Linked DNA regions of Homo sapiens. The protein of the gene in region 2 interacts with the protein of the main gene of each other region in a pairwise test. Each region holds a gene or a part of one and is shown on either strand. Other genes may lie near its edges. The genes, in order: VMA12 and ERLIN1.

Evidence for each region.
Region 1: the proteins of ERLIN1 (region 2) and VMA12 interact in binary tests that used the Homo sapiens proteins (3 or more experiments, as listed by UniProt).

What each region holds. Positions count from the first base shown.
Region 1 is NC_000017.11:28,360,531-28,364,183, reverse strand, and holds the end of VMA12 (vacuolar ATPase assembly protein VMA12), read right to left. Parts: coding exon 3,613-3,653; intron 3,531-3,612; exon of another isoform or gene 3,450-3,530; coding exon 3,337-3,449; intron 3,028-3,336; coding exon 2,932-3,027; 3' UTR 501-2,931; downstream 1-500. UniProt on the Homo sapiens protein: Accessory component of the proton-transporting vacuolar (V)-ATPase protein pump involved in intracellular iron homeostasis.
Region 2 is NC_000010.11:100,168,705-100,176,190, forward strand, and holds part of ERLIN1 (erlin-1), read right to left. Parts: intron 7,367-7,486; coding exon 7,241-7,366; intron 5,578-7,240; coding exon 5,504-5,577; intron 1-5,503. UniProt on the Homo sapiens protein: Component of the ERLIN1/ERLIN2 complex which mediates the endoplasmic reticulum-associated degradation (ERAD) of inositol 1,4,5-trisphosphate receptors (IP3Rs).

The DNA.
Region 1 (3,653 bases), on a different chromosome or scaffold from region 2:
TTCCCTGGCCCCACTTTTTATGCAAAGGGATTCCCTACGGGAAAGGAGTTTAGCTCAGGCATCCCTCCCTTCCACTGGCCTCCAGGCCAGCCTAGATGCAGGTCCTAAGCAGACTGGGGCCTGGCTCCTGCCACCCCACACCCTGACCCCTTTGGGGCATATGCTCATTGTTGTGGCAGGTGGTACCTTCAGAAGGATGAGATGAGGGTCATGTTTTCCTCCACTCTTGCCAGGCCTGGTCCCCAGTTCTCACCAGCTGATGGCCTCCTCCTTCTGAAGGGGCAGGCTCCTGTCTCCTGAGGTCTCTCCAGGCCATTACCTTGCTAACTGCTAAGTGAGGTAGGAGAGGAGAGTGCTGCTCCTCATCTAGACTGCTGGAGAGCCAACTTCTTTATGGGTCAGGGCCCCCTCTCTTGACCATCGACCACCTGGACAAATTAATCAGAACTACGGATGTGAAGAGGGAGTGGCATTAAAGTAATGAAGCAAAGATAGGAAGCTGGGGCTTATGTTGATTTAATTTTCACAAAGATCAGATTGGATGCCCTCTGATGTGGGGCTGTGGAGACAACCTGACAGATCTGGGATGGAGGCAGGTATAGCAGCATTGGGTTTTGGTATCACCATCACCTGTAATACCAACTAATCTCCAAATAAAACCCAAACTCTGTACCTTAATCTGGATTGTTGTGCTCTGCAAACGAACGGGGACGAGGGCCGTTTGCCATGGAAATTTATCTCCATCACCTAATCCCTAAATAGGGCCAGGTTCCACACAGATACCTCTTGGTGGGAGGTATTACCCAGGCTTCAGCTGGGATTAGAGGGATAGTTAATTGAAGGGTTTAGGACTCTGACTGACAAGACCCTGGGGAGATGAGAGCCTCTGCTAGCACCCCCAGCTCCTGGTCCCACTGAATCTAGGACATTCCAGTCACCTCCACCTCTGGAGCTGCTCTGCTTTGGAGAGAAAACCATGGTGTTTGCGGTCTGCACTGGATTCAAATCCTGACTTTGCGATGTAACTGTGGCAACTCTGGAACTCTATGTGACTAAAAAATGGGGATACTTATTTGCTCTCTGTTTGGGGTATAAGAAATAATGTAGGTAAAGGGCTTTACATGGTGTGTAACACATCGTAAAAACTCAGTAAACGCTAGTTCCCTCTCCAGACAGGCCCTAAGAAACTGGGAAGGCCCTAAACTTCTTGTTCTTCCCACCTCCTGCCAAGCAGTCCCTGGACCCAGAGTGCATTACAGAAAGCATGGCACAGTGAGGCAGGAGTGGCTAGCAGATGAGAGAGCTCCCTTCTATATGCTGAGAACTGGAGGATAGGGCATTTGGTTCTCCCCTCCCAGTGCCCCCTGCTTTTTCATTGAGACAAGGTCTCACTCTGTCATCCAGGCTAGAGTGCAATAGCATGATCTTGGCTTACTCAGCTTACTGCAACCTCTGCCTCCCAGGCTCAAGTGATCCTCCCACCTTAGCCTCCTGAGTAGCTGGGACTACAGGCGTGCGCTACCATGTCAGCTAATTTCTGCGTTTTTTTGTAGAGATGGGCTTTTGCCATGTTGCCCAGGCTGGTCTCAAACTCCTGAACTCAAGCATCCTCCCACCTTGGTCTCCCAAAGTGCTGGGATTACAGGCATGTACCACCACGCCTGGCTAATTTTTTTGTATTTTTAGTAAAGATGGGGTTTCGCTATATTGGCCATGCTGGTCTTAAACTCCCAACCTCAAGTGATCCGCCTGCCTCAGCCTCCCAAAATGCTACGATTACAGGTGTGAGCCACCTCACCTGGCCCAGTGTAGCTTTTTAACACAAATTTTATATAGCTCAGGTTACTGGAAACACTGTAAAATGCCACCTACTTTTTCTTTTCACAGCTGACACTTCTCCCAACTAACAGAAACTGGCAAACATTGTAGAGGAAGTGTCCACTGAGTGAATGAGTATATAATTTATGAAAACAGAAAAGTGCTTTGGAAAAAAAAAAAAAGACAACAGGAGTACATACAGTGAACCAAAAAGAGTGTACCAGGAGGAGCAGACCCTGAACAGTTAGAACTATGGAAATCGCTATGCTTTGTGTTGTCACAGGAGTTAAAATAGGAATACCCTGCATACAATAAATATTTATTGGATAAATAACTAAGCCTGATACCCTTTTCAATGCGTTATACAGACTCTATCATCACACCACTAATCTAAGTTCTCAGAAGTTAAACATTACAAGACTTCAGAACAACATAGGCGTCTTTGGCTCCATTTAACAGAAGAAGGACCATAGTGATCATTTAATCTCTATGAGTCTGTCTTATCTTCTGGAAAAGGGGCCTAACACCATTTCCTTTTGCAAAAAGGTAGCTGCCTTGCTTCCAGTTCTACCATCCTCTAGCAACCCATCTTTCTCTTATTTGATGTCTCTGATCAGCTCCTCTTCCAGCACAAACTGGAGAAAGGGGATCCTTTCTGTTTTCTTGGAGGCTTCTGAACTCAATTACAGGTCTGCATTAAAAATGTATGGAGAAAGCTGGTGATCAGTTTGTACATATGGACAAGTTCAAGGCAGTATGGTCTACTTCTGGGAAGGCCTGGATTCCATTTGCTCCTGATGGAAAAACCCTAGTCCCAGCAGTGTTTAGAATGAACTGGAGAAGGCAGATGGGTACCAGATTCAGGAAGAGGTACTGATAGACCAAGACCAGTTCTTTCTGTTTTAAAGATGTGTTATCTCAATCTCCTCCAATGCTCCCTTTGGAAATTCACAGAAGATTAGGGCTCCCCACAGAAACAGCAGCTGGCCTGGGCTGGTCTTCTGACTAACTGGAGCTGAATACAAAAAGTCTGATGGGTTGACTGAGTCGGTGACTGCCAATTGGAGCCTGAAGCCCCCAAAGTCTTCTCTAGACTTGATGATGAAGCACCAGTTACAGTTCTCCCAGCTCGCCTTCCATTGCCCGCACCATGACATACAGCTCGGCCAGACCCACCACAGAGGCGACGATCAATGCAGCTAGCACCCGCTGGAGATGGGGAGAACCAGGCTTAAGGGATGCAGGCCAACAACCAGCTCTGTACCCCAGCAACTTTAATGAGGATGGAGAGCCCCCCAACCACCCTCTAAGTTGGGGGAGGGGAAGAAAAGAGAATGTGGCTTCTCCTGGGGTTATTACCTAACCTCCCGTGACTGCTGGAAAGCTCTAATGCTCCCCTTATTAATGGCATAAATATCTGTTCAATACCTAACCTGTGCAAGGCACTTTCACATACGTCCTCCCTTACCCACTAACACCCCCACCAGGGGCACCCTGCCCTGCCCAGTGCCTACTCACCGAGGCCATTTCTGTGAAGATATATTGGCTTCCAAGGTAAGTGCAGACGAAGGCAGCAACCACCGTGACAATGAAATTGAAGATGGTGATGACCAGAGCCTTCAATGATCTCACTTTGGGGAGGAGCCAGAGAGGGCACCTTTAGTTCAACATTCTCTAGGAGGTGCTCTTATCTCATGGCTCCCCCACCAACTGGGTTTCAGTCAAACAACAAGCCTGAGTGTCATGACCCATCTCAGGAAAAGGTTTTAGAAGCCTGATCTCCTAGTACCTCACCTTGCTTTCCCAGGTCGCTGAGAGTCCCACCATGTCTTGTA
Region 2 (7,486 bases):
GTTTTGCTCTTGTTACCCAGGCTGGAGTGCGGTGGTGCAATCTCAGTTCACTGCAACCTCCGCCTCCCAGGTTCAAGCGATTCTTCTGCCTCAGCCTCCTTAGTTGCTGGGATTACAGGCATGCGCCACCAAGCCCGACTAATTTTTGTATTGTTTTTTAGTAGAGACAGGGTTTCACTGTGTTGGTCAAGCTGGTCTCGAACTCCTGAACTCAGGTGATCCAACCACCTCGGCCTCCCAAAGTGCTGGGATTACAGGCGTGAGCCACCACACTCGGCCAGGACTGTCTTTTGAAGACTCCTATTTTGCTGAATGAGGCTGAAGAACATACTACATTGTGCTTGCCAATCTTGGGAAATCTCACAGATTTTCAAATATGTGAAAACATAAACACTTACTGTACAGATACCATGAGTAAGTTGCATCAAAAGAGATTTTAAAAGTAAAAGTGGGAAGTCCCACTCAGGCACCCCTCTCCCTCACAGGAGAGAGAGCTATTCTCCTTTCTGTTTCTTTTGCCTATTAAACCTCTGCTCTTAACCTCAAATAATAAAATAATGCCCCCATCCCACTCACATACATAGAGTGAATGGAGGAAAAAAATGGCTAATGAAAGGAATATATGTATTGAAACTGACCCCTGGGTTTTAAGCATATATTATATATCAAAAGCCAGTCTATAATATAGTCACTCCCTTAAATAACATAGGAAAAAAAAAATCAAAGATGACCATTTTCATCATTCTAATTTGCCAGAGTAGTTTTTCAAGAAGAAAAATGGTATATAAATATATGGAAAGGAAAAAAATATAATAGTGACTGTAAAAATAGTAACCCAAAAATTACTAGAAGGCAGTGAATTCAAGTTGTAGATATAAGATAAATCTACCAAGAATCAATCACATTCCTCAATGATTAAAAAAAAAAAAGACTACATATTGAACAGCATTAAAATTCATTAAATCCATTGGTATTAATTTAACTTAGGATATGAGTTTCTCCCCTAAATCAGAAATTCTAAAAACCAAAAAGGCTGATATGATAAAGTAAAGCCATAAACTATGTTTCTATTTTTAACTTATATTGGAGGATTGCATGAGGCCAGGAGTTTGAGACCAGCCTGGGCAACACGGCAAAGGCCCATCTCTACAAAAAATAAAAAAATTAGCCAGATGTGGGGGTGTGTACCTGTACTCCTAGCTACTTGGGAGGCTAAGGCAGGAGAATCACTTGAGCCCAGGAGTTCAAGGCTGCAGTGACCTATGATCATGCCACTGCACTCCAGCCTGGGCAACAGAGGGAGACCCTGTCTCAAAACAAAACAAAACAAAACAACATGTATATGACCACTTAGGTGCCTGATATAGCTTGAAAATATCGATAATGAAAACTCATCTGGAAGATTAAGCTGGCAGAAACAGCAAAGGCCATTATTTTTTAAAAGATGATGTCTCTTGCCAGATTTTAAAATAAAAAGTTGAATTATCACAACCATATGGTAATGTGTTAAAAATAACAAAGCTCAAAAACAGCCTTGAAATTCTTAAAATGCATTCCAACTATTGTAAAAAAAATTTTATAACAAGACAAAAGCAACCAAAGCAAAGGAGCTCTTCTCTTCTCAGGGTATGCTTAAGTTATTGCAAAATATAAAAATTATTTTAAAATTTTTTTAAACCCTAAAACAATGGAGATCTCTACCACTTTAAGAACGTATAACAAAACTACATTTTTTCAATCAATAACTTTTTATAAAAACAGCAAATAAATATAAGTAAATTCAAAAGATCCTTCTGGCTGTTGTGCAGAAAATGAAGTAGACAAAGGTAAAAGTGAAAGTGGGGAAAGAAGACAGGCGGCTACTGCTACTGCACATGTCAAGGTTAGAGTTGGTAGCTTGGCTTGAGATGACAGTGAAGATGGAGGTGTGGTCAGTTTTATTAATACATGGATTTTGGTGGTGGAATCTGCAGGACATAGGGACTGATTAGATGCTGAGGGTGAGGCGATTGTCAAAGATGCCTCCTACACTTCTAGATTGGCTTGAGGGGAAAGAGTTACCATTAACTGACAAGATGAAAAACACAGGAGAAAATTCGATTTGATGAGAAAAGACCAAGGACTCAATAACTAATGAAAGAGTAGGAATGGGAAGATCAATGGAACAGAACTAAGTTCAGAAAAAGACTCTAGTATATAATGGAATGCAGTATGTAACATAAAAACTATTTCAAAGAAGGGGGAAGATGGAAAAATAAACTATTCAGTAATTACCGCTGTTACCCAATTTGGGGTTGAGGGGATGGAGCTGAAGGCCTACCTTGCAACTGAGATCAAAATGGGTTGCAGATGAATTAAAAGATTTAAATCTAAGAATACAACTGTAAAAGCAGATACAATTTTTATAATTTCTAATTTTAATTGCTATACTTTTAAGGTGGTGAAAAGCTCTTAAAACATGCCAGCTCAGCAACACACCATAAAGACAAAATCACTGAAATTACTATGTAAAACATGAACACTTCAAAGTTATCAGCAAGGAAAAAACAAAGTTAAATGACAAAGAAAAAATTTGAAGAAAATGTTTCCTATAAATATAAAAAAGAGCTACAATAACTAACATATGAAAAAGTTTATTTTTAAAAACGAATTCTACCCCTCTCAAAGGGTAAGGTTCAAAAACAAGTTCTCTATATACAAATGCTATTTATTTATTTATTTATAGACAGGGTTTTGCTCTGTTGCCCAGACAAGAGTACAGCATGAACACAGTTCACTGCAGCCTCAACCTGCTGTGTTCAAGTCATCCTCCCACCTCAGCCTCCCAAGTAGCTGGGACTACAGGCACATGCCACCACACCTACCTAATTTTTTAAAAAAATTTTTTGTGGAGAAGGGGTCTCACTATGTTGTCCAAGCTGACCTCAAACTCCTGGGCTCAAGGGAGCTTTCCACCTCAGCCTCCTAAAGTGGTGGGATTACAGATGTGAGCCGCTATGCCCAGCCAAAAATAGCTTATTAAAATCAGTTAGAAAAACCATTAACTACAAAAATGAGCAAAACCAACAATTTATAAATGAAATAAAAACAGCTAATAACCTAGGGTATTCAACTTCAATAATTAACACAAAATAACAGACTAATTTTCTCCAAAAGGATTAAGAGAGAAAGGGAAAGCTTGCATCTGCTAATTATTTGGGTACAATCATGCAATCAAATGTGTAAGAACTACAGCTTACCAACACTGCTAATGAGGGGGGGAGCTGCTAAAATTTTTCTAAAAGGTGATTCGGTAGTATGTATCAATAAGCCCCCAAACAGGGCATACACTTTGATCATCAATCCCACTTCAAGAATTTATTGTAAGAGAGGGATTTAAAAAGATGTACAGAATATATAAGCTTGGTCATTCCAACATGCATACAGTAGTAAAAAATTTGAAACCATAGAGATTCACTAAATATAACCATTAAAAGTAATGATTTACCAAACCTATATTTTTGTTTTGGAAAGATGTTCATAGACAATGTTAGTGAAAAAAGCAAGTATGGTATGATTCTGCTTTAGTTGAGCATGTATGCATTTATATCTACAAACATTTGTTCATATACATTAAGAATAGTCGAGAAAGATATAACAAATGATGTTATCCCTGCATAATAAGATTACTGGTGAATTTCATTTTATTCTTCATCATTTTCCTAGTATCTAACTTTTTTCTACAACATAAATAACGTGTGTGTATAAAAATTCCAAATTTATACAGAACAAATCAGTAAGAAAGAAAACAATCCAACAGAAAAATGGGCAAAAGATATGAATAGGCAATCAGCAGAAGACAGTATAAATGACCAATAAATGTATCAAAAGATGTTCAACCTCATTAACAACCAAAGGAATGCAAATCAAAGGGAGATATAATTGCCCACCCATCCATATGGTAACAATCAGTATGTCTGATTGCTTCCAATGTTGGTGAGTTCATGGGTCACAATTATTTGCACATATTGCTGTTAAGAATGTACATTTGTACAGTCAGTTTGAAAGATAATTTGTACATACAAGAACATGTGTCATGAATGTTCATTACACTATTGTTTAATAGCAAAAAACTGGGAACAGAAAAATGGCTAAGTAATATAAGGCAAGGAATTCTAAACAACAGTTGAATGAGCTAGATCTCTGAGTAACACCCTGGGCAGAATCTAAGAGCTGACCTTCACATTCACTATCTTTAAAACTAAAAAGCTACTCCAGCTACAACTGACTTGAACAACTCAGAGGATTTTACAAAGTTACCTCTGGACATTTCAAACGACCCCTTAACTCTGGTGGCTCACCCTCAAGCGCCTGAGATAATGACATTGCATGAATGAGGCCATGAGGAAAACCCCACCTATCTTTCAGTCTTGTTTTTGAGAAGCACGAACACATACAATCACAGTGAGCGCACACTCTCAGTAGCAGTGGTGCTGAGTGTAAAGAATTGAGAGACATGTGATAAGCTTTAGTTGCAGTAATGTTCATCACAACAATCAACAATCAACTGGTCTCCTAGAGCTCCTGAGAAAGGACACTAGAGAAGCCTCAATATAACTTCTTAGGTCATCTGGATCCAGAGCAGTGGCTTTCGAATGTTACTGACAGTGGACACAGTAAGAAACACATTTTGCACTGACGTCCAATATAAACACCTACCCCGCCACACTGTGAAACACAAGTGTCACAGAATATTTAAACTTATTACATACCATTTCTTTTCCTATTCTATTCCATTTTATTTAAAATGCTGTTCATGACTCACTAAAGTTGATTTTACAACCCACAATCTGGAAAACACAGTGACCCAAAAAAAAGCAGGGGTAAAACCTCTCACCATTCTATTTCCCAACGTCACCATCACCACTACCACTAAATTCACCTGCTACCTTGTTTTTACTAGGGCTGTCCCTCCCACTTGAAATACCTTTCTCATTCTTCCCCCATTTAAATCCAATTAATTTTTCCAAACCTACTTAAAATCTCAACTCAATCACAGCCCTCTCCTAGACACACTGTCTTCCAATGTTCTCTTACTCTTACAGCAATAATCATTCAATAGATTCATCTGTCAATTAATACTTTGTGATAACTATTTTGTCCAGGATTGTTCAAATTTTACACTTGAACTCCCTTTTCATAATCTTACTGAGGGCAGGGATTATGCTTACACTGATTTATAACCATTACTGTATCTTAATGCTTCATACATGGCAGAAATATGAATTTTACTTCCTTGTAAGAGCCTCAGCTTATCAGTTCCCTCTAGGAGTTCACAAATGTCACCCATAGTAAGCTACAAGAGTATTTTATTTTGGCAGAGATCTAAAGTCAAATTGAGAAAGGTATTCTATAAATCACCATAGCATCTCAAATAATTGCTGAATAAAACAATCCAATGAAAGGAGGAACAAACTCAAAGCTCTCAAAATCCCCAGAGAACTTCCCTAGGAAAAGAACTTACCTGTATAGTGAGACCTGGGGCCATGAGGTTTAAGTCTTTCTGCAGAGCTTGCTTCAGGTTTTCATCTATTTGATCTGTTTTTTAAGCCAAGAACAACAGATCTCATGATAGTCAATTTTTTTTACATTGTATTCATAATGAAACAAAACTAATCATTATTAGACCTAAAGTTTCCACAGTACTATTCTTTTACAGAGCTTAAACTGCCTTTTCTTCCCTTTTGTGTGGGAAAAAAATTGCAAGGAATTATCTAATAAAGAAATTAAGGAACGAAGATGACAAGCAGATAGTCTGTTTATCCAATAAGTTTACCCACTAAATGTATTACTTAACTATGGATAAGCTTTTTTACTGGGTAACTTATTAGACTTATTTACTGGATAAACAACTACTGGGTAAAATATGTTGATCTAATAAATGGAGAATCTGGATCTCTAGTATCTTAATTCAGGGCTCTTACTCAATATGTATCCTCATTCTCAAAGAAAAACAAATTTCTATGTTCAGTAAATCTTTACTCAAATTCCCAAATAACTAAACTTCATTTCCATGGATCTCAGCCTCACTGTTATTTTGGATTTAAAGAGAGAGAGAGAGAGAGACAGAGAGAGAAGCTCATAGAAAAGTATTTGAAATATACACAGCATGAACACTTGGGCTTGTAACTATGCACTTTCTATTCACCTCAATGGTACTTTCGCTATTTAAATGACTGGTGGTGAGACAAAGCAGGACCCATCAGTTTCCTCACATGCCACTTCAGTGGTTGACAATCACCAAAGAGGACTCAATTGGTAGATTTTAAATTGATTACTCTTGCTTATTCCTTCATCTTAGAAATTCACTAAAAATTTCAGGAGGGAAAAGTGAGCTACCAACAGCAACAACTCATTCCCTGGTCAGAACTTCCACTATCATAAATGAAAAGTAAGTTGTACAGAAGTGAGTTAAGAAAGCAGGGCTGATACTGCAATCCTTAGAAAGGCCTTTTGTAAACTCGTCCTTGGTTGGCACCTAGGAACTTGGATTTGTAGAAGGGTCCCACTATCCCCAGAGCTAATACAATTGACTTGCTGTGAACTGTTTATACAATGTGGCTTATGCCAAACACCTGCATTCCTTCCAGGAGTCTGGAATTTTTATGTGGTAGGCAGAGGGTGCCTACATAATCAGCCCCCAGTGAAAACCCTGGGCAATGAGTCTCCAATGAGCTTCCCTAGTAGACAACATTTCACATGTGTTGTCACAGCTTGTTGCTGTGGGAATTAGGCACATGTTTGACTCTTGGAAGCCTGCACCTGCTTTCCTCTGCATTTTGCTGGTGTGCCTTTGCCTCTCGCTGATTTTGCTTTGTACCCTTTGGCTGTAATAAATCTTAGCTGTGAACACAACTATGTGCTGAGTCCTGTCAGTCTCCTACCAAATCATCAAAAATGGGAGCCTCAAGACACAGGTTTCTAAATTTTTCAAATTATCTATTAAAACATCAACAAAGCTAATTTTCACTAAGTTATTACAGTAAAAACAGAATACAGTCTGAGTAGTTTTTCCAATCTCTAACAAGTTATATAAAAAATTTTAAACTTAAGATAAAAAATATTTTAAAGACAATTGCTCTATGATAAATTCAGAAGAAATGCTTAAATAGCACTAAGGTTTACCAATATAACCTCAATAAGTAAGCTGAACAAAGATTTCCAATTGGCTATTTACATACATAAGAATTAAGACACTTACCAAACAATTCAATGTAAACTTCCTGAAGTGTGTGGGCACTGCAGAACTGGTTCAGCTCATGGTGGATTTTATTGAAGATTAAGGTCTTGTCATAATCTGCAGTATAGTTCCTCACGATATCAAACACTGAAGGAGAGGTACAACCCATGTTTGTTTTACCCAACAATGACACAGGTACCTTCAAATTCAGCCAGGGTAAAAGTCAGGGTGATATATTACACATGAGGAAAAGTGCCAACAAAATAG